Linked DNA regions of Homo sapiens: region 2 is linked to region 1. The links come from fine-mapping of genetic effects on gene expression. A gene starts in region 1. The other region holds a variant in brackets. All regions are shown on one strand. Distances are from middle to middle.

Region 1 (17,316 bases):
ATGTTATCGTGATCCTTTTGGTCCCTCAAGGCCACTGAGTGACTTCGTCTTGCCATCTTTCTACATGGCTGCTGGTTGGGGAGGGCAGTGTCCAGAGAGGTCCCCCTCAGCCCTTCTCCCACCAAACACAGGTGGTTCTATTTTATCCTTAGGACAATGGCCAGGTACTGGGCTGGGAACTTTCCAAGGGCCTATAAAAAGATCTGAGACCTGGAAGAAACAAACAAACAAACAACCAGTATTGGCTCCAAAATTCAAAAGGAGAAAAATGCAAAATCACAATGAATAAATGTATAAGTAAATGTCTATACTATGTAATATTGCATCAGCTTCATTTCGTATTCATAAAAGTTTCATCACATCTGAAAATGGTTTGGAGGCCAGATTATCTTAGCTCACAAAAATCCTCAAGTGTGCAAGAAGACTGCCAAGAAATCATTACCAATTGCAAGTGAAATGAATTCCTCAAGGCCAAATCATTTCAAAAGCAAAATCATAAGAATAATCCTTTCCAAAAAGCTTAAAGCAAAAGACATATATATTTTTATTGTAAAATATGGCCATGCCATTTAAAAATTACATATATTTGATAGTAGTGAGATGGAGACTCCAAAGGTGAGAGTGCCCTGGACCTACCACGGTCTTAAAAACATTGCCAACCTCATCTGCGCCATAAAGCACCCATCTGGGGGGCTCTGGGCCTGTAGTCTCTGCTCCTGACAGCCCAGAGCGGAAAACCACCCCTTAGATCAGAGAGGCTCCCTTGTCAGTGTACCTCTCAGTTTCAGCAGCAAGAACAAGACGCAAGTTAATTTTGCTATAGATAATCCAGACTCACTAGTGAGTATTTCTGAGTCCCATGTAAAAGTGAAATTCTTCAGAGTTGCTTGCTGTTTGCTCATGACAGCTGGAGAAGGGACGAGATTTTGGGATCAGTTTAGGGACCATAGGGAAGACAAGGGGCCAAGGACCATAATTTTGAGAACCCTCATTCTACAGCCTTTTGGAGGCCAGATGGCCACCGTGGGGCCCAGCTGCAGAGACCTGGTACACCTAGCAACTTGGGCAGCTGGGGCCCCTGGGCTTGCTCCTCAATTTAGTCCTATCCCTGTCTCCCTTCCCCTCACTTTACAGCTGGGAAAACAGAGGTCCTCCGTAGATTCCTAATGATTTTGAGCCCTTACCAGGTGCCAAGTACTTCACATACACACATACATGATTTCCTTTCATCTTTATAGCAGGTATACAAGGTAGCATTACTGTCCCCATTTTTTCCCATTATAAAGACAGGGACACTGAAACTCAAGAATGGAAATGGCCTGTCCAAGACAAGGAGTAAGTCCATGGCAGGGCCAAGTCGAGAATCTCGTACCCCATCCTCCTCCCCTATACATGCTGCATCCTCCTCCCATGCCATTGCTCCAGCCATTTTCCCTGCTACCCAAATTCTTTAAATACTTTAAAAATGCATTAATTCAAAATTAATAGTCAATGTAGTCAAACTTCCAAATAAGAAACACATTTAAAAACATTCCTCCCACTCCAGAATCTACTTCTTCTGGGTCTTTTCTGTGCCTGTCTTCATGTATCCTGACTGCCTTCTTCCCGCTTCCCTCTTCATTGCTTTGCTCACATAAGTACGCCGTAAACTCCTTTCGTAGACCCCTTCGCCCAACCAGAAGAATGCCTGAACTTCCACCATCAGAACAGCATCTCTTTAAGCTGTCAGTTAAAATGCCCCACCTTCCAGACTTGGCCTCAAAGTAGGTTTTAGTCCCTGCTGCTTGTGTGGGAAGGGTGGAAGTGTCCGAGATCAGATTTGGCTGAGTGATGGGGGCACTGGGAAGGGGACAGCATGAGGGCCTCTAGGAAGCAGAAAGGTGAAGGCAGAGGGGACTACGCTGTGCTGGGCCGGGCGCCAGGCCCTGGGAACAGGGTGGTAACAGGAAGGACACAAGGCCTCTGCAGCTGCGGCCCATTGCCTCCTCAGGGTCTAGTGCTCCCCTGCTCCTGGGGCAGTGTGACTCTCCCTGTCTCCCATGCTGGGCTTGACTGCCTGGTACCAAGCCCCTGCCAACCCTCTACCCTCTATCAGCTCCCAGAGACACCCAGACCTCCATCTGTCTGAGCCTCGGTCCCCTGGCCCCAGGGCTGGGAGATTGGCCAGCACCTCAGATTTGTTCCCTCTCAGAAAAAGAGCCAGGAGGTATGCAAATTTGACTGCCAATTTGGTAGGGAAATGAGGCCTACTGGAAGCCAGAGTCCACAGTCCAAGATGGTCTGAGAGCCCTGGGCTCCCTTGCTGGGGCTGTTCTCTCTGAGGCTGTCCCACCTGACAAAACTGAGAGCTTCCTGCAGTGGGGCCAGGCCTAGTCTTGTGGTGAGTTTTCAGCACCACCCATCACCAGCCAGAGGCAAAGAGCAGGAGCCAGGGATGTTTGTTAAATGAATTAGTTACCAAACTGAGACTTGTTGTACGTCAGCGACTGTGTCCAGTGTTTTGCATTTACTGGCTCATTTAAGCCCCTAGCAGCTCTAAGGGGTAAATGTTATTATGCCCCATTGTACAGATGAGGAATCTGAGGCACAGAGAGGCTGGGAGATTGGCCCAAGCGCCCATAGTTCCTTATTTATTTACTTAGAGACAGGGTCTCACTTTGTCACCCAGGCTGGAGTGCAGTGGCGCAATCTCAGCTCGCTGCAACCTTGACTTCCTGGGCTCAAGCAATCCTCCTGCCTCAGACCCCCAAGTAGCTGGGACTATAGGCATGCACCACCATGCCCAGCTAATTTTTTGTAGAGATGGGGTTTTGCCATGTTGCCCAGACTGGTCTCAAACTCCTGAGCTCAAGTGATCCACTCGCCTCAGCCTCTCAAAGTGCTAGGATTACAGGTGTGAGCCATCAGGCCCAGCCCCCTTCTTTATTTTGAAACCACTCCCCCACCACCCTACCCCTGCCCCAGTACCCCCAACAACCTCCCACCAGGGCAGTAGGCTTGGTGCAGGGTGCCCCCTTTCAGAGCTTTGCGGACATACCTGGAAAGCCCTCTCTCTGGTCTGGGGTCTCCCTGTGGCAGCTGTGTGCTCTGGTCAAAGCATCCTCTGCTCTGAGGATGGGCTTGCTCTTCTCTGCCCTGCCCCTAGCCCTCCAGCGCTCGGCCCATTCACAGCTCCAGTCCCCCAACCTTCTTCACCCACCCCATCCCCTCCTCATCAGGCCAACTTCCTTCACAAGGACCTACGAGGATAGCATTGTCCAACCCCCAAGTAACACAGCTATCTCTGCTTCTGTCTGCCTCAGGGACACAAGGCCTTCATTTGTGCCCCGGATGGGGGTGACGATTAGGGCTGCTTCTCCTTCAGGGCCCAGGGTCATAGGATGCAAAAGTGTCACCTCAAAGGGGTCATGTTTGCACCAACTGCAGTGGGCAGCCAAGCCTGTAGATGGAGTGGAGCCCTGAGGGGATGGGGCAGCTTGGTTGTGATGGCTGCAACAGTCCAGAGGGCTTTGAGCAGTGGGACTGAAAAGAGCATAGCCTCCACTGGCCTGCAGAGCTGTGGGAAGAATGACTGCAGGCCCTCACAGCTGTGTCTCAGGCCACTGTTGTGTTTCTGAGCAGGCAGGGGCAGGCCTTTGGACATCACTTAGCCATCCGTCTCCTTGTTGTGCAGGTGGAAAACTGCAGCCCAGAGAGGGCAGGGACATGCCCTGGGGCATACAGCATACAGGTGATAAGGCTGTTTTCCTCTCTGGGCCTCCTGCAGATCTGTGCACTCCTCCAACGGGAGGTCAGCATCTCGGCCAGCTCTGTCTCCCTGGAGTCTGACAGCTACAAAGGCAGTGTGCAGTGAGTGCTTCTTCAGAGGCCTCTGGGCACATGCTACCAACTCTGGGGAGACTGACCTAGGATGAGTCACTGGCTCTGTGTTCCCCTAGGGTTTTCCCAGAGGCTGGCCATGTAGGAGCAAGTTTACTGCCCAAATTTCCCCTTTTCAGTAAACACCAGCTACTTCCTCCTGGGTGGTTACTTCCTTCTGGTCACTGGGTTCCTGGACGGCTCGAGGAAGCAGGGGCTTACATGGGCATGCAGGGCAGACCCCTCAACACCTCTCATGCCTGTACTAGATGCAGGGAAGGTACACAGGCTGTATAAAGCTGGCCCTGACCACAGGACATCACTGTTTAATCTAAGAGACCTCAGGAACTGCAGATGTCAACAAACCATTTACGAAGGGTTTCAGGGAATTAGGAGCCACCAGAGACAGCCCCAACATTTCCATGTAGGAGGCCCTTGGGAAGAACTGAAGCTATATCTATTTACATAAACTATAAACATTGTCCAGACTGAAGATGGAGGTACTAAGAGAGATGAGATAAAGCCCCATTGCCTAGTTCTCCTCAGCTCATGGCCCTAGGAATGAGGGGAGAAGGGTTTGTTCACGAAATAAAAAGCATTTCAGCAGGGTCTTGAGAGAGTCAGTGGGGAAGAGGGGCCTGGGGGAGGTCTAGAGAGTCAAGAGGGTTTTAGGGTTGATTCTGGAGGCTCTAGGGATCCTTGGAAGGCTTGGGCCACTTCCTAAGCCTGGTCGGGTAGACAGAGACTCAGGGCCCTCCAGGGGACCCTCCTGAGACATTGCTGTTGGCTTTGAGGCCTCCATACTTTACCACTCTCACTGGGGACTCAGGCCTGTGTCTGTGCAGCCTCCTCAGAGGGCCATATTCTGGACCCGGCCAGACCGAGGCAGGGGCCAGGCCAGTTTATCCCCTAATATACTAAAAAGCTCAGTGCCTGGGCCTGCCTGCTTGAGAGGCCTGTGAAATGTTTGTGGCCTAAGAAAAATGTATTGGCTCTAAAACCCAAGAAAAACAGCAAAATTAGAATTAATGAACATCTAATTAAATGTCTACAAATGTAACATGTCACCTTTATAGTCATCATAAAAATGTCATAACAGAGCTGGGCACCTTGGCTCATGCCTTAATCCCAGCACTCTGGGAGGCCAAGGTGGGAGGATCACTTGAGACCAGGAGTTTGAGACCAGCCTGGGCAACATAGCAGAGACCTATCTCTACAAAAAATACAAAAATTAGCTGAGCGTGGTGCTGCGCACACCTGTGGTTCCAGCTACTCAGGAGGCTGAGGTGGGAGGATTGCCTGAGCCCAGGAGGGGGAGGTTGCAGTGAGTTGAGGTAGCGTCACCGCACTCCAGCCTGGGTGACACAATGAGACCCATCTCCAAAAAAAAAAAAAAAAAAAAGGTCATTACATTTGAGAACAATTTCTAGGTTAGGTTTCTCTCACTTGGCCAAAATTCCCACACAGACACGATGATTGCCAAGAAATCAGCCAATTAAAAATGAAAATGAAAACTCATAATTAGATAATATCAAGAGCACAATTATGGATATTCCTGAAAACATTTTCATAGCAAAAATTATGTATATGTTTACTACGGGATGTAGAGCATTTTAATATGTTTGATATGATGTCAGGTGTGGCCTCCAGAAGGAAGAGGGCAGTGGCTTACAAGCATTTTATTTATTTTTATTATTATTATTATTTTGAGACAGAGCCTTGCTCTGTTACCCAGGCTGGAGTGCAGTGGCACGATCTTGGTTCACTGCAACCTCCTCCTCCCAGACTCAAGCGATTCTCCTGCCTCGGCCTCCTGAGTAGCTGGGATTACAGGCACGTGCCACCGTGCCTGGCTCATTTTTGTATTTTTAGTAGAGATTGGTTTTCACCATGTTGCCCAGGCAGGTCTCAAACTCCTGACCTTGTGATCTGCCCTCCTTGGCCTCCCAAAGTGCTGGGATTACAGGCGTGAGCCACCACACTCAGCCCTGCAAGCATTTTAAAATGGCCCCAGCTCATCTGTGCTGGGTGACCAGGGAAGGATTGGAGGCTCAGGTGTAGGGGAGTCAGGCTGAAGTCCAGCTTGCCCACTGAGGGGCACAGACAGCAGGTACGGTTCTGCATGCCAGGCCCTGGCGGATACAGCAGTGAACAAACCAATCATTCTCCTACCCTCGTGGAGATTATATTCTAGTAAGGCAGGGAGGTGACACACAAGAAAGCAGATAAAAGTAATGTGTGCTATGTTGTATAAATGCCGTGATGACATGTAGATGATTACCGCTTAAAACAGCACCCCTGTCCCGTCCCATCTGCCTAGCCCTGGCCAGCCAGCCCAGACTCTTAGTCCAGGAGGGGGGCTCGTGGCTTGTGCCTGTGAAGGATGCCTTCCTCGGGCCTAGCAGACATCGGCCCCCGTGAGACACCTCATGGGGCTTGGTCCTGTCCACTGGGACCACAGGTCATGGCCACCCCCACTTCCTTATAACTTACTGATAGATCTAGGAGAGATGGGCTACACCCTCCCCTGTCCTGTTGCCTCCCTGTACCATGGCAATACAGACCGGGTTCTCCCAGCTCTTCCCTTTCCCACAGTATTTCAAGGTCAGACCTCACCCTGACTGCCTACCCCACAAGCCAATTAGTCACAGCCCCTTTTACATACATGGTGAGGCCCAAATTGAACTTGGGACCCCTTGCTCCCGAGAGCAGCCCACTCCACTCCCGCAGCACCGCAGTGTCTGGCCTCCCTTGTCTGGGCCCGGTCTGACTGTTGGATTCCCCCTCTCCGAATCTGCTGACTGATGAGGAAGACATCGGTGTTAACTGCAAGATGATAATAATAACAGCTGATATGTGCTGAGTGCTTACTATGTGTGAGGCACCGTGCTAAGCACTTTCATATGCATTTCTCACGTAACCCTTTCAATAACAACAGCACGAGATAGCTACTTGTATTTATCAACCCTGTTTTATAAATGAAGAGACTGAGGCCCAGAGAGGTTAAATCACTTGCCCAAGGTCATGCCTCTGGTAAGTGGCAGAGCTAGGAGACACATCTGGTCAGTGTGAAGTCAGAGCCCAGTCCTTAACACTGTGCTGATTGTGCTCAAAGACAGGTGGAGAGGTCAGCCACACCTCTGATGGGCCCCAGGAAAGGAATGCTTGCGTGGTGCCACTTTAGGGCCTGCAGAGAGTCGGCAGGCTGGGTGAGGACCCAGAACCTGCCCTTCCTACCTGGGTGGCTCCAAACAGGCAGTCTAATTTGTGTCCCTGTCCAGCTCAGAAAGGTCAGTTTTCCACCTGGGTCTTTCAGTGTGTCTGTATAAAACATGCAAATCTATGAGGGTGAGATATTTGGTTTGGGCTTTCACAAATGTAGCTATGTAGCTATACACTTCCTTTTTCCTTTGAATAAAGTGAGCTCTTGTACTCACTATTCCCTCTCCCTGGAATGCTTCACCCACATTTCTGGTTGCCCCTGTCCCTCCCATCATCTGGGTTTGTGCTCCATGTCACAGGATCAGACCAGCCTCCTTGCCTGTCCTGGGGCAGCAGCCTGCTATCTGCCCCCCATCACTTCATCCTCTCACTTTGCTTTTTACTTATTTTTTATTCTTGTGGGAACATAGTAGGTGTATATATTTATGGGTTACATGAGATATTTTAATACAGGCATGCAATGCATAATAATCAAATCAGGGTAAGTAAGGTATCCATCACCTCAAGCATTTATCCTTTGTGTTACAAACAATCCTATTATACTTTTTTTTTTCTTTTTAGACAGAGTTTTGCTCTTGTTGCCCAGGCTGGAGTGCAATGGCGCAACCTCGGCTCACTGCAACCTCCACCTCCGGGGTTCAAGAGATTCTCTTGCTTCAGCCTCCCGAGTAGCTGGGATTACAGGCATGCACCACCACGCCCAGCTAATTTTGTATTTTTAGTAGAGACAGGGTTTCTTCATGTTGGTCAGGCTGGTCTCGAACTCCCGACCTCAGGTGATCCACCCACCTCGGCCTCCCAAACTGCTGGGATTACAGGCGTGAACCACCGCGTCTGTATTATACTCTTTTGGTTATTTTTAAACGTACAATTATATTATTTTTGACTGTAGTCACCCTGTTGTGCTAGCAAATACTTGGTCTTATTCATTCTTTCTCTTTGCTTTATTACAAAGCAATAGATTTGCCTTCTCAGGTTGTGAGTGTTCAAATAAGTTAGTCTATAAAGCACTGATAAATACTAGGTGCTATTTTAAGCGGTAATCATTTACATGTCATCACGGCATTTATACAACATAGCACACATTACTTTTATCTGCTTTCTTGTGTGTCACCTCCCTGCCTTACTAGAATATAACCTCCACGAGGGCAGGAGAATGATTGGTTTGTTCACTGCTGTATCCGCCAGGGCCTGGCATACAGAACCGTACCCGGCATTCAGAAGGCGCTCAATAAATATATGTTGAATTCAATAAATGAACTGAGGTCTGGAGAGGCAGGAAACGCTTTGGCTTTCATGAATTCTGCAAATATTTACTGAGCACCCACTCAGCACCAGGCAATAGGCTGTCTCATTTTTACAATATTAGCTTGAGACTCTGGCAGGAGGGAGATTTAAATATCAAGTTTTTAGAATAAGATACACAGTGTGAAATGCAGTTTTAAGCGGACACTCCGCTGGGTTTTGAGAGATGCACACTCCCATGTACCTACACTGCCATAAAGAAATAGACCATTGCTTCATCCGGCAGGGCGAGGACTTGGAGCCCAGGTGGCACGAAGGCAACTGACCCGCGGGGTGCTGGTCGCAGGACCCTGCCTCCGGGGGCTGAGGGGGCAACGGCCGGCGGGCGGGCGGGGGCGAGACTACAAGTCCCAGGGTGCTTTGCGCGCCCGCGGGCCGTGCGGAGCGAAGGGGCGGTGCGGAGGGGGTAGGGGGCGCAGCGGCCGCGGCGCGGAGGCGCAGGGCGCGGGCGCCTACGGTTGGCGCGCGGTAGCGATGCCGGGGGCCGGAGCCCGGGCGGAGGAGGGCGGCGGCGGCGGCGAGGGCGCGGCGCAGGGGGCGGCCGCGGAGCCCGGGGCGGGTCCGGCGCGGGAGCCAGCGCGGCTGTGTGGCTATCTGCAGAAGCTGTCGGGCAAGGGCCCCCTGCGTGGCTACCGCAGCCGCTGGTTCGTGTTCGACGCGCGCCGCTGCTACCTTTACTATTTCAAGAGTCCGCAGGACGCGCTGCCCCTCGGCCACTTGGACATCGCGGACGCCTGCTTCAGCTACCAGGGCCCCGACGAGGCGGCGGAGCCGGGCACGGAGCCGCCCGCGCACTTCCAGGTGCACAGCGCGGGAGCCGTCACGGTGCTCAAGGTGGGACCGCTCGCCCCAAAGCCGCCCGCGCGCTTCCGCCGGCGTCCCCTGCCTCCGCCACTGGCTTGCGCCATCCACCCTCCTTCCTCCAAGGCCTCCTCGCCCCTGCCCACGTCGGCCTGCCTTTCCCTGCTTCTCCACATCCCGCCCTCGTTCCTATCTCCTCCCCACTATCTGGGCTTAGGCCAGTCTCGCTGGGGCTACCAAGCCCCGTCTCCTTTCTCAGACACCTTGACCCATTATCTCCCTCTGCGCCTAACCTCGGGCCAGTCTCTGGTGTCTCCCGACCCCCACCATCCCGTGGATGTCCTGTGCAGCCTTCCCAGGCATCCGTGAGCGTAGGCTTCTACCCCTGGGGCCTCCTTTAGAACTTTGCCTATGGCCTTGGTACCTCAGTGAACCGCTCTGGGCTGCAGCGGCCTCCTCTGTAAAATGGGATAACAGTAGTATCTACCTCATGGGGTGTTGGGATTAAATGAATTATACTTTAAACTGCTCAGTAAATGTCAGTGCTTTTATTTATTTGTTTATTTATTCTTTTTGAGACAGGATCTTGTTCTGTTGTCCAGGCTGGAGTGCAGGGGTGCGATCTCGGCTCACTGCAGCCTCCATGCCTGGGCTCAAGAGATCCTCCCACCTCAGCCTCCCAAGTAGCTGGGACCACAGGTGCGGGCCACCACGCCTGGCTAATTAAATTTTTTTTTTTTTTTAAAGAAACGGGGGTCTCACTATGTTGCCCAGGCTAGTCTCGAACTCCTGGGCCGAAACCATCCTCCCCATCCAGCTTCCCAAAGTGCTGGGATGCCAGGCGTGAGCCAGAGTGCATTTAGCACTGTAGACAGAAAGAGTCAGATGGCAGGGCCCTTAGAGACAGTCCACTACATTTTCCTCCAGAGTGGACGGGGATGCTCCAGCTAAGGTCACACAGCCAGTAGGTGGCAGATCCTGTGTTCTTCCTCCTTGCTTTGTCCAGGATGGGTGGGAGGGGGTCTTTTCAGCCAGTTATGCCTTGCTCCTTTGAGGCTCCCTTAATCCTCCAGTGGACAGACAAAATGAGAGATACAGTGTAGAAGCAGGAGAGTAGAGTCAGGAGTCCTGGTGCTGAAAGGCCTCCCCTGTCCTTGGGAGTTCTGGGGGACTAGACTGTCACCTCCTAGGGGCCCACCTGCTTTGAGCATCTGGAGGGATCTGGGCCCAGGCCTGGAGCTGGGTATCCTTTTTCCAGGCTTTGCTCCCTGCCTGGTTTCTGTGAGTCTCCACCCTCACTCTCACTCCTCTTCCGTATTCCAGGTTGGGCTTTCTCCAGAGCAACAGGGTTGGGCTGGGATGTATGAAAGTGCTCTCAAAGCTGGCCACACGGAGAGCAGACTAGGCAAACTCCTGGCCTTGTGAGCTGAGGACTGTTCCTCAGACCCCCAGAGCTGCTAACAGCTGGAGCTGCTCCCTGGAGATGTTCTTAGAGCTTTGCTGACTCAGCTTTTGCCAGTTCAAGCAGGATCTGATTCCCATGTTCTCTTGGGCTCCCCTGTCCTGTCTGTAAGTGGGTGCAGACAGCCTGTTTCCCCAAAGAAAACCAACTCGGGTTGCAGTCCTACACAGGCTTACTTAGAGAGTGCCTGTATAAACTTGGTAATGACCCTAGTGGGAGACCTTTGCCAAAGGCAGAGGCTCTTCCTCAGTGTACATACGGGCTGTCCCTGTGTCGGACGAATTTCCTGTGGGATGTTTGTTAAAGAAAATAGAGCATCGTGTTTCACATTTTTCCCAGATGACTGTAGAACTCTATCAGTTTTTTTCATTAAAATAATCTGAATCTCCTGTAATCCCAGCACTTTGGGAGGCCGAGACGGGTGGATCACGAGGTCAGGAGCTCGAGACCATCCTGGCTAACACGGTGACACCCCATGTCTATTAAATATACAAAAAATTAGCCAGGCATGGTGGCGGGTGCCTGTAGTCCCAGTTATTCGGGAGGCTGAGGCAGGAGAATGGCGTGAACCCGGGAGGAAGAGCTTGCAGTGAGCAGAGATCGCGCCACTGCACTCAGCCTGGGTGACAGAGTGAGACTCCATCTCAAAAAAAATTAAAAAAAAAATAATAAATAAGAATCTACATAAGCAGGGTTACAAGGCGCATTGTCAGAAGTGTGGCTTTAAACTTCGATGGACTTGAACTTGAAGCAGGAGTCTGCTGCTCACACATATTGGACAAATTACACCAGTTCCCTGCTCCAGTTTCCTCTTTGGTCTAGTGGGAATCATACCTTCCTCATTAGGTGGCTGTGAGGATTCTGGAGAATGTTATGGAAAATGGCTGGCGCATTTTCCATAGTGGTATGGAAAATAGTAGGCACTACATGGCATATGAAACATCAAGCAGTGTCTTTGGCCAAATATGTAGTGTATTCATATAGTGGAATATTATGCAGTAGTAAACAAAGGTACTAGAGCTATAGGTGTCAACGTGGATTACTCTCACAAACAATAAAATTGAACAAGAAGTAAGTTACACACTGATTGTGTTCAGAATGATACCACTTATAGAAAGGTTAGGAAGATCATGTGAAACAGTACTACAGATCATAAGGATGTATGCTCTTTCGCGAGGGGAAGAGCTTTATGGGGCTGATGAGCTCTGGTTTCCAGGTAGTGGTTGCCTGTGATGGGAAGAGGGAGGATGTGATTGGGAATGGGTGCCTCAGGGCTTCTCCTGTTTTGCAGTGTTTTATTTCTTGGACTGGGTCATAGGTATATCAGTGTTTGTCCTATTATGCTATCCATCTTTTTGTAGGTTCAGAATATTTCTTTTTTTAAAGAAAGGAAATACATTTTCCTTTGGGTTACTGACAATGGAGGAATATTTTGACATGTAAAATTAAATTGGTCACAGAATAAGATAGTACCGAGTGTTGGCTGTATACAACAATGGGAATGGAAATCAGGCAAGGCTTTCTGGAAGAAGGGAGGAGAAGGCCGGGCGTGGTGGCTCATGCCTGTAATCCCAGCACTTTGGGAGGCCGAGGCGAGTGGATCACTTGAGGTCAGGAGTTCGAGACCAGCCTGGCCAATATGGTGAAACCCCATCTCTACTAAAAATACAAAAATTGGCTGGGCATGGTGGCGCACGCTGTAGTCCCAGCTGCTCGCGAGGCTGAGGCAGGAGAATTGCATGAACCCGGGAGGCGGAGGTTGCAGTGAGCCGAGATCACACCACTGCACTCCAGCCTGAGCGACAGAGTGAGACTCCACCTTAAAAACAAACAAACAAACAAACAAACAAGCAAAAAACACCCCGACTCTAAAACCCTGCTCCCTTTTTTTTTTTGAAACAGAGTCTTGCTGTGTCGCCCAGGCTGGAGTGCAGTGGCACAGTCTCTGCTAACTGCAACCTCTGGCTCCCGGGTTCAAGCAATTCTCCTGCCTCAGCCTTCCGAGCTGAGGGACTATAGGCGCGTGCCACCGCTCCCAGCTAATTTTTGTATTTTTAGTAGAGACGGGGTTTCACCATATTGGCCAGGCTGGTCTCGAACTCCTGACCTCGTGATCCACCTGCCTCTGCCTCTCAAAGTGCTGGGGTTACAGATATGAGCCACCGCACCCAGCCAGGCGTGTGTTTTAAGAAAATTAAATTTCATTGTACAGTTATTTCTTTTGAGCTGTAGGAGTAAAATCTTTATGGTGTAAGTATGGAAATTACCAATTTATCTTCCTTTTCGTCTTTCAAATGCAAGAACTGATTCCCTTAAGCCTTAATGTTTCACTTTAGGGCTGCCCAGCCATAGAGGAGACCCTGATTTCTAAGGATTTTAAGTTAGGATTTAGCCCTGCTCAGACTTCAGCTAGTGGTATATAATTTTACAAATACCATTTCTTATCACAGAGGGTTAAAAAGTAAAGAAAAATCAGCACTTTTCTTATTCTATTATCATATGTTTTTCTTATTTAAAAGTGTCTTTCAGCTCTCTCTGGAGAAGCTGTGGTTTTGTTGGGCTTTTTCAAAATGTTTTTCTATGTAAGTCTTAATGAAAGCTGATATAGGAATTTCTTGGGAAACTCCTCTATTCCCAAACTTAGGGATTTGATCTGGTGCCTTATGAGGTAATAGAGGCTAGAGAGGGGATGTGATTTTGCCAACATCATGAAGCTAGACTCAGACCCTCTCTGAAAGTAGAGGCTCCAGGAATAGTGAATGTCTAAAATGTGTAGTATCTAATTGTATTGTCTGTTCTGACAAGTCTGCTTTTTTTTGACTTTGTTGGGGATCGGATAAGGCGTAGTAGTAGTCTTTCCTTCTATTGCATTTAATATCTGTCCTTTTTGGATAGTGGGTATCACAAGGGAACATTTTACTGCCCAGTTCTTTACCAGGATGCCTAGTACCTTTTGCTGGACATGTCTGGAAACTGCTGCAAGGGTCTAGCAGAGGCTGATGCTTCCTGTGTGCGTCTCTCTCTGTGTGTAGGGGTGCTGGAGGCTTCTCACAGAGCTTTACTGGAATCTGAGGCACTTAGGGGAAGGAGAGCATGTGACTGACCGAGGGTGAAGCTTAAACAGCCTTGATCTTCCAGATCTCTGCAGACTTTGGAGCAAGAGAGCGTCATCAGACCGTCAGCAAATGAATTCCTCCCTCCGTAGGTGCTTGGTGCTAAATAGACATGTGTACTGGTTTCTGAGCCACACGTAACTGAATAGCTGTGTACCCCTATTCTTAACCACTTTTGTGGGAATGCACATTCCCTGGTGTTGAAATTTCTCTTAATGACAAACATTTGTCGGCTTGGGTAATCATATTGTTTTCAGTGCAAAATAGATGTGGTGAACCAGCCTCCTTTGCTGTTTGGTTCTTCTAAGCTGTTCTGCCCTAGGGCATCTGCTCAGTCTTGAAGCATTATTTAACTCTTTAAGTTATGGGAATTTAACTTTTCATGGCTTTCCAATTAGTAAGTTCCTTCAAGGCAAGTCCAGTATTGTGCTTGTGATATCACAGTGGCATTCCGTCTCCCTCTCCCACTGCCTCACACAGTCCTCATTGCAGGGGAGTCTCCATCCTATTTCCTGCTAACCAGAGGGTAAGCTCCCTAAGGACTGTGTGTATCCTCAGCTCCTGCAACAGTATCTGGCACAAAGGAGACATGCTATAAACTAGTGTTTGTGTTCCTGAAAAATTCGTATGTTGAAGTGCCAGCTCCCAGTGTGATGATATTTAGAGGTGGGGCCTTTGGGAGGTAATTAACTCATGAGGGTGGAGCCTTCACGAATGGGATTAGTGCCTTTATAAAAAGAGACCCTGGAGAGATGATCTCCCCTTCCACCTATGAGGATACAGCAAAAAGGCATTCCTTTGCAAACCAGGAAGAGGGCCCCCGCCAGGAACCAAATTGACCAGCACCTTGATTTTGGACATTCCAGCCTTCAGAACTGAGTAAATTTCTGTTGTTTAAGCCACTTAGTCTGTGGTGTTTTTGTTATAACAGCCTGAACCGACTAAGGTAAGGTGCCCAGGTAGACATTTGTTGCATGAATGAATAGAAAATGGTCACCCAGTAAGCACTGGTTTTGGTGTGAGCCCTGACCCTTTAGAAGTGATCAGCCAGAACTCCCAAATATACAGGTGTATTACATGCCATTCTTGCCTCATGTCATGGAGGTGGCAGCCATTCAGTGAATGCCCACTGAATTTAACAGACATCAGGAATCCAAAAGGGGGTTATGACTCACCCTTCCCCAGAGGAGAGAGCTTACAGTCAGTTCCATATTTTCGGGTCTCATATATTTCATGCCCATGGTCAGGACTCCAAGGACACTGTTATAGCAGAGGCAAACTTTTTATGTAAAGGGCCACATACTATTTTAGGTTTTGCGCACTCTGCCATATCTGTCACTATGCTGTTGTAGTACAGAAACAACCACAGAATGAGTATAGCTGTGTTTTAACTTTTAGTTATGGACTCTGAAATTTGGATTTCATATAATTTTCACATTTCGCAAAATATTCTTTTGATTTTTTTCAACCATTTAAAAATGTTAGCTGGGCACAGTGGCTCACTCCTGTAATCCCAGCACTTTGGGAGGCCGAAATGGGAGGATCACTTGATACCAATAGTTCGAGACCAGCCTAGGCAACAAAGTGAGACCCTATCCCTACAAAAATTAAAAAAAACTAGCCAGGTGTGGCTGGATGTGGTGGCTCACGCCTGTAATCCCAGCACTTTGGGAAGCCGAGGTGGGTGGATCACTTGAGGTCAGGAGTTTGAGACCAGCCTGACCAGCATGGTGAGACCCTGTCTCTACTAAAAATACAAAATTAGCTGGGTGTGGTGGCGGATGCCTGTAATCCCAGCTGCTTGGGAGGCTGAGGCAGGAGAATTGCTTGAACCCAGGAAACAGAGGTTGCAGCAAGCTGAGGTGGCGCCATTGCACTCCAGCCTGGGCGACAAGAGCGAAACTCTGTCTCAAAACAAAAAACAAACTAGCCAGGCATGATGGCACATGTCTTTAGTCCCAGCTACTTGGGAGGCTGAGGCAGGAGGACTGCTTGATCCCAGGAGGTGGACATTGCAGTGAGCTGTGTTTGCTCCACTGTACTCCAGCCTGGGTGACAGAGGGAGACCCTGTTTCAAAAAAATAAAATAGCAAAATAAAAATGTTAAAACTGCCCTTGCCTTGTAGATTGTACAGAAATAGGCAGAGACTGGAAATGACCGCAGGCTGTAGTTCACTGACTTGTGTTCTAGGAAGGCCTCAGGAGCTTCCCACTCATTCACTCACTGTGTGTGCTTAGGCACTGGGGATATGACTGGACAAGACAAACAGTCCCTGTCCTCCTGGAGCTTTCAGTAGGTGGGGGGGACAGACGTTAATAAAATATAACAAACACCAACCAGTGCTAGGAAGTTTGAAAGGAAAGATATGCAATGCATGTATAGTTCAGGATCTTGATCTGGTTTATGGTTGGTGGAGGGCTAGGAAAGACTTTCCTGAAGAAGCGACATTTGAGCTGAGACTCAAAGGATGAGTTGGTGTTGACTGGAGCGGGGGTGGGGGTGGAGAGGAGGAAGTCAAGTGTTGTAGGGAGAGGAAATGGCATAAGCAGAGGCCCTTAGGTGGGGGTGCTGGTTGCATGTGGGACTCAAGGAGTGCCTGGTGGCAACTAGGAGTGAAGGGGACATAGCCTTTGGAAGAGGCAGGCCTTGGGCCAGGGCAGGATTTTGGTCTTCATCTTAAGAGCTAGAGTCAGTAAAGAGTTTTAAGCAGGGTTTGACAAATAGGTTTTTGTTTTCTTTCTTCTGCTCCCAGATAGATTGTTTTAGGCCATTTGTGCTGCTGTGAAAAAATACCGTAGACAGGGTAGCTTATAAACAACAGAAATTTATTTCTCATAGTTCTGGAGGCTGGGAAGCCCAAGATGAAGGCACCAGCAGATTTGGTGTCTGGTGAGGGCTCACTCTGCTTTAGAGGTGGTGCCTTCTAGTGGTGTCCTCATAGCAGAAGGGGACAGACAAGTTCCTTCTGGGGCCTCCATCTATGTATGTTTGTATATATGTATGTATGTATCTATCTATCTAAATGTATTTTTCTCCTCAAATTCCTTTTACCACTCTGGCCTCTTTCATAAGGACCCTGATCTCATTCCAGAGGGCTCTGCCCTCATGACTTAAATCACTTCCCACAAGGCTTCCCTCTTAGTACTATCATCTTGGGGACTGGGTCTCAACACGTGAATTTTGCGGGGACACACGTTTGGACTGTGGCACTGATGGTTTGGTCATGCCTAGTATTTTTATGTAACTAAGTTAGAGGATTATCGTGTTGGGTACAAAGGGTTGATGTATTTATATGTTATGTACTGGCAAACAGATTTAAAAGTAGATAAATGCAAAGCTGAACCTATCTTGAGCAGTTGCTTCTTAATTTTGTTTCTGAGTGGTGGGTGTTGTGATGGGTGAAGCTCGCTTTGGCAGGTGTGTGTGTGGCTAGGGCCGGCCCGCCCTGGTGGACTTCCTTTCCTGAAGCATTCCTAATGGCCCCCGGCATTGACTTCTCTCCTGCTGCACTTGCTTTGCTCATATGCACATTACCAGTTTCCTTCCTCTGTGGA
Region 2 (14,261 bases), 35 kb after region 1:
TGAACTGTTACACTTTTAACAGCTTGTGTGCAAGGGGATGGCGTGGGAGGAGTAGCTGTAACTTTCAGTCCTCAGGCAGCCTGAGCAGTGCTCTCGGTGCAGGATGCAGGGTGTAGAGAGCTGCCAGAAGGAAAGCCATCAGGTGGAATGCAGGCCCCGCGTTGGCAGTGCCACAGGAATTACACATCATCCTTTAATGTCGTGATTCCATACAGAGATCAAGGAAGCTGTGCTTTTGTGTAATCCTTGTAAAATGCTGCAAAATACCATGCGTTCTTGTGAAGTATCAGTCATGGTAGTTACCAGTGTTGTATCTGAGAGGCAGCATGGGGAGAGCTTATGGGACCTTGAGCACATCATAATTTCCCCATCTGTAAAGCAAGATGCTCTCTGAACCAGTCTGTGAAAGTCAGGTTGTGAAAGAATGTGACTGTGGGAGGGAGGATGTGAGGGAGATGCTGAGTGGGGTTAGATTGCAGTTCTGTCTCGGAGGAGCCTGCTAGAGAGGGTTGGAAAGGAGTCTATGTGGAACAGGCTTGCAATTTGGTGTCAGCAGAGACATCCTCAGCCTAGATTTGGTGGGACTTGGTGCAGGTGAATACAGGGATTGATGTGGCTGTGAATGGGGGTGGGGTGGTGGCTGAGCCAGATTGCAGGAGAACAGGGAGGAATGGGAAAGGAAAAGAGGGAAACCCCCACCCCAGGGAAACCCCCACCCCAATTCAGGGCATCTGTCAGAGGCAAGGTGGCAGGAGAGAGGAAAGTCAGGAAGTATGATGAGTATAAACCCACTCAAGAACTGCAGGGGCCTTTGCTGCCTTCTGCCCAATTGGCCTTTTGTCCCATGCCATGTTAGCAAGTTCTTGTCTTTTATGGATTAATTTGGTCATTTAACCAATATTTATTAAGTCACTCCTCTATGCTAGGTGTTGGATATGCAGCTGTTAGCAAATCAGATAGAGGTTCAGTTCTCACAGAGTTGTGTCCTTGATGGGGGTAGGGGACAGGCAAATGAGCAATTAACCAGACATATGGACTGGCCCATCCTGGGGCCTCTCAGGACCTGGTGGTTGGCTGCCCCTTTTTTCTGGTACTTAGATGTATGCTATGTCCTCACTTGGAAGATATTTCTATTCCTCCTGACTGGGTCCTTCACAATCTGTATTAAAACTCACATTGATAAATAAAAAAATTTTTTTCAGATTAAACCCACCCTGTCTTCCTCCAACTCCCAGTGTTGACACCCAGACTTTCGTTTGCTGTGTGCTTTGATGCATATGGGTACAACCCTTTCCCAGTGTTCTTTTCTCCTTTCTTGGATGCAGCTGCAAGCCTGGGTTGAGTTTTATGAGAATTCTCCCACTGTACACAGTTCTGTGCTCTGCAGAGGTTGCTGGCGGAGCACCTAGGCCTGACTGAGACAGCAGGAGAGGAGAGGGAAGACTCACTGAGGCAGTCCGGTTGTAGGCAGGAGCCGCCCCTGTGCGGGGAGTCCCATTAGGAGGAGACTTTGAGCATCATGTGTTAGAATGCAGTAAGTGGGAAGGGCTCTTGGAGACCAGGGAGGCTGAGACTGCCCGGGTTCACACTGGATTTAGAGGCAGTGCTGGAATCAGAACCTAGGAAATGGGAACAATGCAGTCGGAAACTCCCTCAGAGTTTTCATTTAGGCATTTGAAAATGTTTAAAAAAGACAGAGGTCTAAACACCAAAAACCGTCAGGCACAGACTTTCTTTCCCCACTGAAGCTGTAAGACAAAAGACATGTTCATGAACACTAGTCCAGCCTCTTAAAATCTTCGAGGAAATGTTGCCATGTCCTAGTTTGTGTTTTCCCTTAGTGTCCTCCTTGAGGCGGTTTCCTGCATGCTAATGTTAGGACATGTATTGAGGAGAAGCCAGCAGCTCTGCTTTTCATTAAGTAAATCTCACGTGGTCTCTTAAAAACCAAAAACCAGACAAAAATAACAGTAACAGCAAAAATGTATTAAGCTGGAAAAGAGCTTCTTTTTCAAGTCAGATAATTACTTTTAGAAATTTTCCTCCAACGTGTTCCTCCCTGGTCTCTGGTCCCTTTTCTCCACCCCTCCTTGGGGCCTCTGAGTTCCTCAGGAAGTATTTCCAGTATGGGCTGTGGGTTGCTGCAAGGCCTGGGGTTTTCTTGGTAATAGGCACTTTGCCACATGAGCATTTGACAGTCCAGTCTCGCAGAGGGGCCGTTCATCACCTTGCTACTAGCCCACACAGGAAGAAGAGGCTGGACTCAGCCTGTAACAGAAATCTGTACAGTTTGTTGTGTTTATTTCCTGACTTGGCTTAGAATTGTGATGATGATTGTAAGACCAGCCTTTGAAGTAAAGGAGTTTGAGCTGCACCTTTACCCCATGTGCCTGTAGACTGACACATGGTGTCACCAACATTGAGCACCCCCTGCCCCCCACTCCAGACACTGTGCTCTCTAGTAGGTACACTCATCTCTACCTGCCTTGCAATATTTGTATACTGCAGGGGCAGGTGTCTGGGTTCTGGCCCTGGCTCTGGACTCTAGTGTCCTGATGGAGAAAGTAGGTAGGGAGACTGGACTGGATTAGTGGTGTTTGAACTTTTTTTTCTTTTGTTTACTGGAACCTCTTTTCCAAATGAAATCTTAAAGGCAACCCTAGTATATAAAAGAGTGAAGGAGGAACTGCTGAGGATGAAGCTGAGCATGGGGCCCCCATCCTCTTTTCCCTCTAGAAGTCCCCCAGGCATCTCCTGGAACCCTAAGACTCACAGGAAGGGTCTGGATCCCAACGACTCAATGTATTTATTCTGTAGTGACTTGGAGCTTGACATGTTACTGTTTTACTTATGTCTCTCTCCTGGATGTGTTCTCCTTTACGGGGAAAGCTCTGTCTCATTGGTTGTTGTGCCCTCGGTGCCTAGTGCTTAATACATGATAGTAAAACCAAGAACTGGCAATCTGTGGTTATTTGTAACTTCTTGCCTCTTGACTCAAGAGGCTGCAGTGAGCCGTGATCACACCACTGCACTCCAGGCCTTAGTGACAGAGTGAGACCCAGTCTCAAAAAAAAAAAAAAAAAAGTGTATACTCTGTTACCAAGTCTGTAATTCTTCTGTTCCCAGCACACCGTCTTGCTTTTCTTAGTCAGAACCCTACTGTAAGCCATGCATTGACTCTCCTGGCCAGAGCCAAATTACCCTGATAGATACACAGCACTTGTTTACTCATGCCATGCCCAAGATACTTCCCCAGTGTGTTCTTGAAGCCCTTCCTACACTGATTGTGGTCAAGTCAGAACCTGCCTACACAGTGCAGGCCCATCATGTGGCATTCAGGACGTTGCTCTCCAAGCCTGCGCAGCACAGGAATGCCTGCTCTCTGTTTCCTTTACCAGTGCTCAGTGACCTTTACCAGAGACCTGTTCTTGCTGACTCTGATTGTGTGCTTCTCTGATTAGAAACGAATTTTTCTTGGCTGGGTACAGTGGCTTATGCCTGTATTCCCAGCACTTTGGGACGCCAAGGTGGAAGAATTGCTTGAACCCAGGCATTCAAGACTAGTTTGGGCAATATGGCAAACCCTGTCTCTACAAAAGAAAAAAAAAATACAAAAATTAGCTGGGCATCGTGCGTGCCTGTAGTCCCAGCTACTTGGTAGGCTGAAGCAAGAGGATTGCATGAGCCTGGGAGGTTGAGGCTGCAGTGAGTCGTGTTCACTGAGACCCTATCTCAAAAAAAAAAAGAGAAAATAATTTTTCTTGAATATCAGTGGTCAGCAGTCAATTCTGATTTCACAGAAAGAGATGGTTGATTTTGTTGATATAGAGATATTTTAAAAAGAAGTGTAGATCAAATTGATTATTGTAAAGTAATATTGAATTCTGTTTATAAGCATGTCCTATTCTCAGAGAGATTATGCCATTCGGCATGGGATAATTCTACCACTGAAATACCAGTGCAGATTATGTTATTTGGAAGAATACAAAGTATTTGTAGTTAGAAATGTTTTTATCAGCCGGGCACAGTGGCTCATGCCTGTAATCCCAGCACTTTGGGAGGCCGAGACGGGTGGATCACCTGAGGTCAGGAGTTCGCGACCAGCCTGGCCAACATGGTGAAACCTCGTCTGTACTAAAAATACAAAAATTAGCCAGGTGTGGTGCTGGGTGCCTGTAATCCCAGCTACTTGGGAGGCTGAGGCAGAAGAATCGCTTGAACCCAGGAGGAGGAGGTTGCAGTGAGCCGAGACCGCGCCATTGCATTCTGTCCTGGGCAACAAGAGCAAAACTCCGTCTATGGGGGAAAAAAAAAGAAAAATGTTTTTATCAAAAACAAAAAAATTTTAAGTAACTTTTTATTATGGGAAATTTTAAACATATACGAAGAATAACATAATATTACCTCTAGGTTTATTAGGTAGTTGGAACAGTAATTACCCCTCGTTTCATTGATACCCTGCTTTGTTATTTTCAAGCAAATAACATGTTACCTGAAGCAAATATTACTATGTATTTGTTAAGTAACAAAATGTTGCTATTTTGAAGTAAATCCTGACCATCATATCATTTCCACCTTAACTATTTCAAAAGTTTACATTTTAAAGATGTGTTGTGAAGTTTCATCATGCTTTAGCATCAGTATGTTTGC[T/C]TGTGAATTTACTGAACTGCTATTCTGTGATGTGCAAACTTTATTTTTTCACTGTCACTCTTTACAAGCAAATACATTTATATTTGTATTTCTCCCACTTTCTTAGAGAAAAGGGACCCTTGTATAATCTGATCTGCACCTTGCTTTTCTTATATAACAGTTTATCCTGGAAATTGTTTCTTATCAGTACAGGTGATTGGACTTTGATGACGGGTTTATGGTGAGGGTTATTGGTCTGCAGTACTGGAGGAAAATTCTAGCCTTTGCTTTCTCTGGGCCAACACTGTTAATACTTGGTGGTTTGAGGCATGTCACAACCTTCCTTTGAGAAACATGGATCTGTTTAGATGAAGATGGTTTCAGAACATCAGAGTTACCCACAGATTATGTTTTTATGTAGTATACATTAAAAATATACTATTACATAGTTTAGATTTTTATATAGTATGTCAAGTCAGTGTTTTATGTGGGATGTCAAGTTTCGTGTGGAAGCTTTGAGTAACTGACATTTGTTTACCTTTTTTTTCAGATTTAATTTACCCACACCCAAATGCTTCTGCAGAAAAAGCCAGAAATGTCCTAGCTGTGGAGACTGTGCCTGGAGAGCTGGTGGGAGAACAAGCTGCAAATCAGCCCGCCCCAGGGCATCCAAATTCCATTAATTTTTACTCTTTGAAACAGTGGGGCAATGAGCTCAAGTGAGTCTTTAGAAAGCAGCATATGAAATTGAAAATGGGTTGTTTCTGATAATGTATGTTATAATTTTATAAATGAAGTTATAAAACTATCTTACACTTACAAAGGCCTTTGTTGTTTACATCATACTTTCCCATAGATCATTGTGGTTTTAGCTTGTATTACATGCTTATTCTGTGTCTGACACTATGCCAAACAGTTTCACACTTAAACGGTTTAATTTAATTGCTCAACTCTGTGAAGTAGGTCATATGGCTGACATTTTACAGAGACTGAAACTGGCTGAAGGAGAGTATGTGTCTGAGGTCACAATTCTTCCAGGCTGCAGAGCTGGGGCTTCTTGTGCCTAGGGCCTAGTCCCCTCTCCAAGACACTAGGCTGGCCACGTCCTGTGCTCTGGATTTCCATTCTCTGTTTGTGCATGGGCTAGTGAGAGTAGAGGTGGGTTGGTTTTTGTTCGTTTGGTTGGTTTTTATGAGATGAGGTCTTGCTGTGTTGCCCAGGCTGGTCTCAAGTCCTGGGCTCAAGTGATCCTCCTGCCTCAGCCTCTTGAGTAGTTGGGACTACAGGCATGTGCCACTATGGTTGACTTGTTTTTTAAAGAAGAACTTTATTGATATACAATTCACACACTGTACAATTCACCCATTTAAAATGTACAATTCAATGATTTTTGGTATATTCACAGAGTTGTGCTTCCATCACCACAATCAATTTTTAAATGTTTTCATCGATCCAAAAAGAAACTCATTACATTAGCAGTTCCTTCTCATTTCCCCCAACCCCTTCTCCTCTGTCAACCCTCAGCCGTAGGCAACTCCTAATCAACTTTCTATCTCTATGAATTTGTTTTTTGGTGGGTTTTTTTTTTTTTTTTAAGATAAGGTCTTGTTCTGTTACCCAGGCTGGCATGCAGTTGCGTGGTTCATGGCTGACTGCAGCCTTGAACGAAGCAATCCTCCTACCTCAGCTTCCAGAGTAGCTGGGACTACAGGTGTGCACCACCATGCCCGGCTAATATTTTATTTATTTATTTATTTTGTAGAGACAGGGTTCCCTCTATCTTGCACGGGCTGGTCTCAACTTCTGGGCTCAAGCAATCCTACCTTGGCCTCCCAAAGTGCTGGGATTACATGAGCCACTGCCCCTGGCTTATGAATTTGTTTATTGTGGACATTTCATATAAATGGCACCGTGCATACCTTTGTGTCTGGCTTCTTTCCGTTAGCATAATATTTTCAAGATTCATCCATGCTGTAGCAACTATCAGTGCTTCATTTCCTTTTATGGCCAAATAATATTCCCATATATGAATGTGCCATATTTTGTTTATCCATTAGCTGGGGGTGGTGATGCATGCCTGCGGTCCCAATTACTTGGAGGCTGAGGTGGGAAAATCACTTGAGGCCAAGAGGTCGAGGCTGCAGTGAGCTGAGTTCGCATCACTGCACTCCAGCCTGGGCAACGTGGTGAAACCCTGTCTCAAAAAAAAGAAAAAATGAAAAAAGAGAAAGGTTGTAGTGGCAGTGCGTTGTGGGAGACTTGGAAGTTTCTTGCTGTCCTGTAGAGTCCAAGCCAGTGGTCACTATGCAGTTGGCCAGCTGAGCTCCATAAGGGGTCCCACTGGTTTTTCAGGATGGGGCTGGGGTGTTCTTAGAAGCTACCATCCAAGGACACACTGTTTTAAAAAGTAGCCTCTTTGCTGTAACTGCTTTCTTTTTTGTACCTTCGTGGTTGAATTCAGTATGATAAAGTTATTTTCTGTGTGTTTTTAGTTTTTAAGGCATAGGTTTATATTGAAGCTGAGTGGGATATATAGGATATATATAGGTTATATTGGAGCTGAATGTCAGGGGTACTCAGACCTCAGAAGACCAGCACTTGTGAGGGTGATCACTGTAGTGGGCCCTGCCTTCCTTCCTCATCCTGGCTTGTGGCTGCAGTCCCACCTTCTTGGTCCTGCTCTGCTCCCATTCATCGGCTTTTTGCTGTTTTCTCTCTTGAGTCAGCTCTGATCATGTCATCTCCCTACGCTGATAGCCCTCAGCCTGCAAGTGCAGCTCCAAACTCTTTGGTCTGATATTTGAGGTTCTCAACGATACGACATTAGTCTCTTCCTTGGGCAGCTGTTCCCAGTATTAGCACTTTGTGAGCCTCTGTGTTCCGGCCATTCTGTGCCTTCCTCTTCATCCCAGAACCTCTGCTCACCATGTGCCTGTCTGCCCTGTGCCATCTGATTAAGTCCAGTCATCTCCCAGCACCCAGGGGATGGGGAGGGGTCATCCGGGAGGCACAGTGGGGCTGCCTTCCCTAGGTACCTGCAGCTTGAGAACCACTGATTTCCTCTGTTTCAAAGTATTGGGCTTCTCAGTAAAGAAAGGGATCTGTGCTCCTAAAAGTGTCAGAAAACCACTGAGAGCCTCCCTTCATTCCACATGTTAAAAGGTTGAGGCTTAGAGAGGTAAAGTGACTTGCTCAAGATCACATAGCAAGTGTGTGGCCGAGCTGAACACACACCCAGGTCTCCTAATTGGGGACCCAGTGCTCCTTCCCCCTTTCATCATAAGAACACATTTGGGGGACTATTGATTTGCCAGATTTTCATACCTAAGCTGTGTCATCTGCCCTCAAAGTGAGATAATGGAATGAGGTGGAAATAGACCTGTAATGCTGGGTGTTTTCCATGTCCTTGAGCATAGGAACATGGATGATGATTGAGTGCCTCCTGCCTAGGAAAGTGAACGCCTGTCACTTCTGCCTGTCACAGCTGACAGATCACATTCAGGGTGAAAAATCTAGTGTAGGAGTTATCTTCTATCAGCTGTGCCTTTGCCGTGTAACACAGTGATTAAGAACCAGGCTGCCTGAGTTCAACTCCCAGCTATGCCACTTAGTAGCTGGATAACTTGGGCAAGTTACTTAATATTCTGTGCCTCCGTTTCTCATTTGTAATATGAAGATAATAATCATACATCATGAGATTGATAGCATGATGATGAATTCATATGTGTAAACTGCTTAGAACAGTCCCTGGCACTTAGGAAGTACTAGGCGAGTGTTAGTTGTTGCTGTTGCTGGTGGAGGCACAGCTCATGACAAAGCCATTCTTCACAGAGGTTTTTGGGACCACTTTCTGTAGACACTAATGCTTATTGACTGGCATATGAATCTTAAGTGTTTATGGTTTTTTGTTTTTCTTTTGTTTGTTTTTACTTATGGCATGCTTTATGAAGTTTTAAATAAAATGCCTTAGGTGCACAGACAGACTTTAGTGACCCTAAAATAGATTACTGTATTATAAATGAATGGCTCAAAAATTGTATTTTTTAATGCACTCAAAATGCTGTCAACATTATGGTCAAGGCTTAAAAGATAAATGAAGGTTTATTCTTTTATTCTATTTATCAGTATAGTTGAAACTCTCTTAACTAGCTCCCCTGATGAACTGACATTTTAAGGTTCCTCAGTAGAGCCATGGTCCTCACTGACTGACTGCATGAGACCAAATGGGCCACTTCAGGGCACCTGTGTCCCTGCTGCCCCCACCAGCTGAGCTACAGACCTACCAAGAATCAGCTGGGTTTGTTCCTCACTGGTTAATGCCCGTTGTACTTATTATTGTAATTATGTAATTCAATGAGATATTTACTAAACCCGTGAAATATAAAAAAGGAATTGTTGTTTCTAGGAAAAATAAGTTGAATGCTTAGGGAAAATTTGATAAAGGTGAGTCACTGAAAAAATTGCTGTGAGGATGTGGGTGACATGATCGTGAAAAATCAAAGAAAAAAAACTTAAAACCCTGTAAGATTTTATGCTTAGATTGTTTCACAACTGTTAGGCCTTGTTCCACTTTTTAATAAGAAACAAACAAAATTGGGAAAGTTAGCTGATGTCTTAATGGATGTGATTTGCCCAAGAAAGATAACAGAGAACTGCAGTTAGTATCCCCAGATTGATCTCTTCCTTCCTCCCTCCCTGCCTCCCTTTTCTTTCTTTCTTTCTTTCTCTCTCTCTCTCTTTCTTTCTTTCTTTCTTTCTTTCTTCCTTTCTTTCTTTCTTTTTTCTTTCTTTCCTTCTTTCTTGCTTTTTCTTTCTTTCTTTCCTTCCTTCCTTCTTTCTTTCTTTCTCTCTTCCTCTCTCCCTCCCTCCCTTCTTTCCTTCCTTCCTTCCTTTTCTCTCTCCTTCCTTCCTCCCTCCCTCCCCCCCTTTCTTTCTTTCTTTTCTTTTTCTTTCTCTTTCTTTCTTTCTCTTCCTTTCTTTCTTTTTCTTTCTCTCTCTCTTTCTTTCTCTCTCACTTTCTCTCTTTCTTTCTCCCCTTTCCTTTCCTTTCTTTTCTTTTTTCATTTTTTGAGACAGGGTCTCTACTTTGTCACCCAGGCTGGAGTGTAGTGGCATGATCTTGGCTTACTGAACCCTTGAACTTCTGGGCTCAAGTGATCCTCACACCTCAGCCCCCCGAGTAGCTGGAAATTTAGGCACGTGTCACCATGCCCAGTATCCCCAGATTCCAAGAAGAGGCTTTGGCTGGTGTGTATCAGTAGACTGGCAGATGAGTGCACATTTACATACACCTTTACAGGTGCATGTGTTTGTTTTAAGTTCCTTTTATATGGATTCCTGCTTTAACCACATTTTTCATTTAACTTTTCAACAGTCCAAATCACACCAGGTGAAGGAACTAGGTCTCTGCTGAAATTCTGGCCAGTCCATGTGTGTATGTGCATACTCAGGGGTGGGAGTGCGCAAGCAAGAGTGAGAAAGCGCATGCCTGAGCACACGTGTGAGCGTGCATTGGAAGCCTGTGTGGCGGTTGAGCGTGTATTTTCAGTGTATGTAGGAGGTGTGCTTAGGCTGCAGCAGCGCTGACAGCAGTCAGCAAAGTTCTGTGGCTTTGTGGCCTGGACTGTGCGCCCATCTCTGGGTGCTAGGCTGGGCCTGATGTGGACCTCTGGCTCCTGGGGTCCAGCTCTAGTTCTGTTCAAGAGTGGGGTCACATTGTGGATATTGTAGTCAGCCCAGGTTTTGGAATCCCAGTCCTGCTACTTATTGGGTGTGTGATGTTGAGCTAGTGACTTAACTTCTCTGAGCTTTATTTTCTCCATCAGTAAATTGCGTGTGTGTGTGTGTGTGTGTGTGTGTGTGTGTGTAGTAAGCCTCTCTACTGGATGGGTGGGAGTGAGTGTTAAGGTTATAAATAAGAACTGCCTAGCACAGTGTCATTGTAAGTGCTCAGTAAATGGTGGCTACACAACCCAGGCCTGCTGGTATTGCTGCCACTGTTGTTACCCTGTCTCTTTTGAGCCAGTAGGTGAAGTGAGTCTCCACTTCCTTGAGTCAGGTGGATGGGGTGCCTTTCTCAATGCAGGTGTAAGGGCTGAGCTAGCCGGGAAGGTGTGCTCATCCTTCCAGGCCTGCCTCCCATAGGTCTTCTGCGGGCCCTGCAGTTGGCCCCGCTCTGATCCTTTGTTTTTGCTTCTCTCTTGACTCCCTCAGGCCTGGTAGAAAGAGTTATTTGTGAGCATGGCGGGGGTTCCCAAGAATCTATTATGGTTTTAGTGTCTAGGACCGTAAAGTCATGACAGTGACTCCTCTCTTCAGCCCCAGTTCGTAGCAGAGGGCCCGGCGCAGCCCAAAGCAGGCACCCGGATGTTTGGTGAATTAGGGGAAGTTTTTCCTGTCCCGGAGCCGTAATGTGGTACTTGTGATTTTCCTTGTTGGAAGGCACAGCTATGTCTGCCAAGAAAGACAAGGCATGTAGTCACCATGCTGCTGCCTCACACAGACATTTTTTAAGCCAGGACTTCTGGAGAAGGAAGCAGAAAGGAAGGCAACTTGCTCTTTGGCCCATGGAGTTTCAGCAGTTGCAGGAAGTTGGCTGGGGTGTGTGTGTGTTTCTGCAGTGGTGCAATGGCACCTGGTCTTTTCTGATAGCCCCCAGGAGCATGAAGTCGTGCTTAGCAATTATGTCCCAGTAGTCCTCTTGGTCTTGATCCATTCACATGCTCCCAGGGGCCCACATATCAGAAGGGCCATCGGTGTATGACACTGTTCCATGGAAATCACTGCGGTCATGAGAGGACCAGTGGCTTTGGCCTGTAGACTCGGAGACCTTTCACCATGACTCAGCATGGCAAGCTGAGGCTCAGAGAACTTTAATGTCTTGTCCAGGGCCACCAAGGGAGCAATTGGGCCATGTCTCCGGTTGTATTTAGAGTTGGGGGCTGAGGAAGGGCACCTGTCTGCATCCTGTGCCTGTGCTGGGTCCACCTGTTGCAGGGACCCAATTCTAAGGGACCTGAATCAATTCAATCGACTGCCTCAGCCTTTCAGAGGCTTCTCATTGCCTTAGGCTGAAGGCTGTGCTGCTGAACATGGCCTTCAGGGTCCCGTGGGGTCTGACCCCTGTCATTTCCTCTGTTGCAGGCCCACTTGACTTCTTTCAGTTCTTCAGGTGTATGTCTTCCCAACAGGCCCTGCCTCAGGCTGTCCCATTGCAGGGAGGGCTCTGTCTTCTCTGGTTACTTCTGCTCATTCTTCAGAGAAGCCTTCTCTGTTCCTCCCACTCCTCACTGCCGTGCTTCTCCTTCATAGCCCTGTAGTTTCTGTATTTCTTTGTGTACTTGTCTGTGGTCCAGCTCTCTTGCAAGGCTGGGAGCTCCATGGGGCAGGGACCCTATCTGTCTTGTCTCTGGTTTACCCCAGCACCTCACACTGCCTGGCTCATGGTGGGTGTCCAGCACCGACTTGAGGAAGAGTGATGAGGGAAGGCTCCAGACCCTTCCAGGGGCAGAGTTGCTCTGCTGCTCTTGCTCCCGCTGCTTGGGGGCTTCTCATCCTCTGCCCTTTATACTCGTGGGGGGGTCTGCCCACACCCACCTGCCCTTGTGCCACACTCCCTTCCCTAGCAGGACGACAGTTCCTCTCAGCACTTTTCTTTCTGTTTGGCTTCCTGGGCAGGATGTTACCTTCTGACACAGCATTGTTCACTTTTTTGACTGGGAACTGACAGCAGAAAATACACATCTTTGTATGTAAATGTATACTGTTGTTATGTAAATAAAACTGAAAGAAAAATTCCACTGCTACATGTAGTAAAGCTAAGTAGTATTTTCTCTTCTAATACTAAAAAAATGCTTGTCATGACCCTCAAAATTGATTTCCTCACTCCTTAATTGATGTCCTGGCCCCCAGTGGGTCATCACCTGCATTTGAGAAGCCCGTTCTGCAGGACTGCCTGGCTGGGCAGCTGGCCCTCCCTCCCACCCTGCTGCATCTTCCTCTCCCCTCCACTATGGGATGGGGCTGAGGATGTTCCCTTGGGTAAGAGGCTGTCCCTCCCCGCTGTCAGCTGTTTAAGGTTCTTCAGGAAGACAGGCAGGCGAGCCCGTGAGTCCTGCCACAGGGGCTGTAGGGTGCGGTTCAAGGCTGAACCCAGTATGTCACGGCCTACCTGGGCACACCAGGAAGAAGTGCTTATTCTTTGCAGTGTGGGTTGTGGGAGAGGCCGGTGATGGTTTTGCTGTGAAGATGAGTTTTGGCTTAAAGGGCTTGAGAGATGGAGAGGGACTGTCCAAAGGGGAATGCAAGTGCAAGGACACCCATGCAGAGGCAAGGAAGTCAGAACAGGGTGTGTCTCAAGAGTGGCATGGGTTCTGGTGCCAGGTGCGTAGGGTGCTAAGGGGGTGAGGATAGAAGAGGAGCTGAGGAGGCCAGGGACTCCCAGGGTGAAGGGGTGGGGGTGTCTGCCCTTTGGACAGTAGGGAACCTGTGGAGCTGTACCTGTCTGAAAGTTCTACAGTAAGAATATTGTTTCTTAGATGTTTGGTTTCTTTGAGGCTGTGCATGTTTATTAGGTGTTTGCTCTGATGTCTTAAAATTGGAAGGGTGATGTACTCATCTGTCCAGGTAAATGTCTAGAGTATTTTGGAAACTGTCTTTCTGATGACACCTTTCCAGGTCCTCAAGACCAAAAGACATCATATCAGAAGTAAATATATTCTGACTTTGGACGTTAATGCTCCAAACTTGAATGCCAGCTGAAGCCTGGACCACAACAGAAAGCAGCCTCTCGAAGTCCTTGGTTTGAAGGACGATAGCTTACTAGAGAGTAATTGTGTTAATTTGCTCTGGCTGCTATAACAAGTGACCATAACACTGGTGGCTTAAAACAGCACCTATTTATTGTTTGATAGTTTGGGAGGCCAGAAATTCAAACTCAGCTTCACTAGGCCTAAGTTAAGGTGTTGGCAGGACTGCTTTCTTCAGAGGCTCCAGGGCAGAGTTAGTTCCTGGCCTCCTTCAGCTTCTGGTGGCTGCTGGTATTCCTTGGCCTGTGGCTGCCTTGCTCTAAATCACTGCTTCCTTGGCCACATTGCTGTCTCCTCTTCTGTAGTTGAATCTAGGCCCACTCCCCAGATAACGGTGTTAATCCATTCGTGAAGACTGAGCCTTCATGGCCTAATCACCTCTTAATGGTCCCACCTCTTAATACCGTCACAATGATTATTACATTTCAACATGAGTTTTGGAGGAGATATTCAAACCATAGCAAGTGACCTGGCTTGCAGGCCTGCCACCTGACAGCTTCCCCATTTGGCCTGCCTTCTTAGTTGTGTGTTTGTACTTCATTGCAATAAGCGTGCATGCGTATAAAAAGAAAAATCAATCATTGCTGAGGGGTACACAGTTAAAAATGAAAGTCCTTTTAAGTCCACTTCCCAGAAGTCACCACTAGAACTGAAGGTACTTATGTCTGCACCCTGAACTTCGCTCTGTGTGTATGTGACTTAGAGGGATTGTACAGTATCCACTATGTCAGTGCATAGCTACTTCAGGGACTTAGAATGCTCACTCTTCGCTCAGACATGGCTTATCTGTATTTACCATGTCATGAGGCCCACTTGCACCAAAGC

The links. PIP is the estimated chance that this variant, and not a neighbour inherited with it, causes the effect.
Region 2: its variant is fine-mapped to the expression of TBC1D2B in whole blood (INTERVAL, PIP above 0.99).

The regions. Positions count from the first base shown.
Region 1 is chr15:78,069,196-78,086,511 of GRCh38, reverse strand. It overlaps TBC1D2B (TBC1 domain family member 2B), which reads left to right and starts at 8,801. Exons shown (of 13, transcript NM_144572.2): 1 at 8,801-9,219. The coding sequence starts at 8,860. RefSeq lists enhancers at 2,417-2,476, 2,000-2,500 and silencers at 8,516-8,565, 8,716-8,925, 9,126-9,325.
Region 2 is chr15:78,035,987-78,050,247 of GRCh38, reverse strand. It overlaps TBC1D2B (TBC1 domain family member 2B), which reads left to right. Exons shown (of 13, transcript NM_144572.2): 3 at 5,180-5,348. Among named protein-coding and RNA genes, the nearest start is that of TBC1D2B, 35 kb to the left of the region's middle. RefSeq lists a silencer at 2,848-2,927. The variant T/C (reference allele first, on the strand shown) is at 4,651.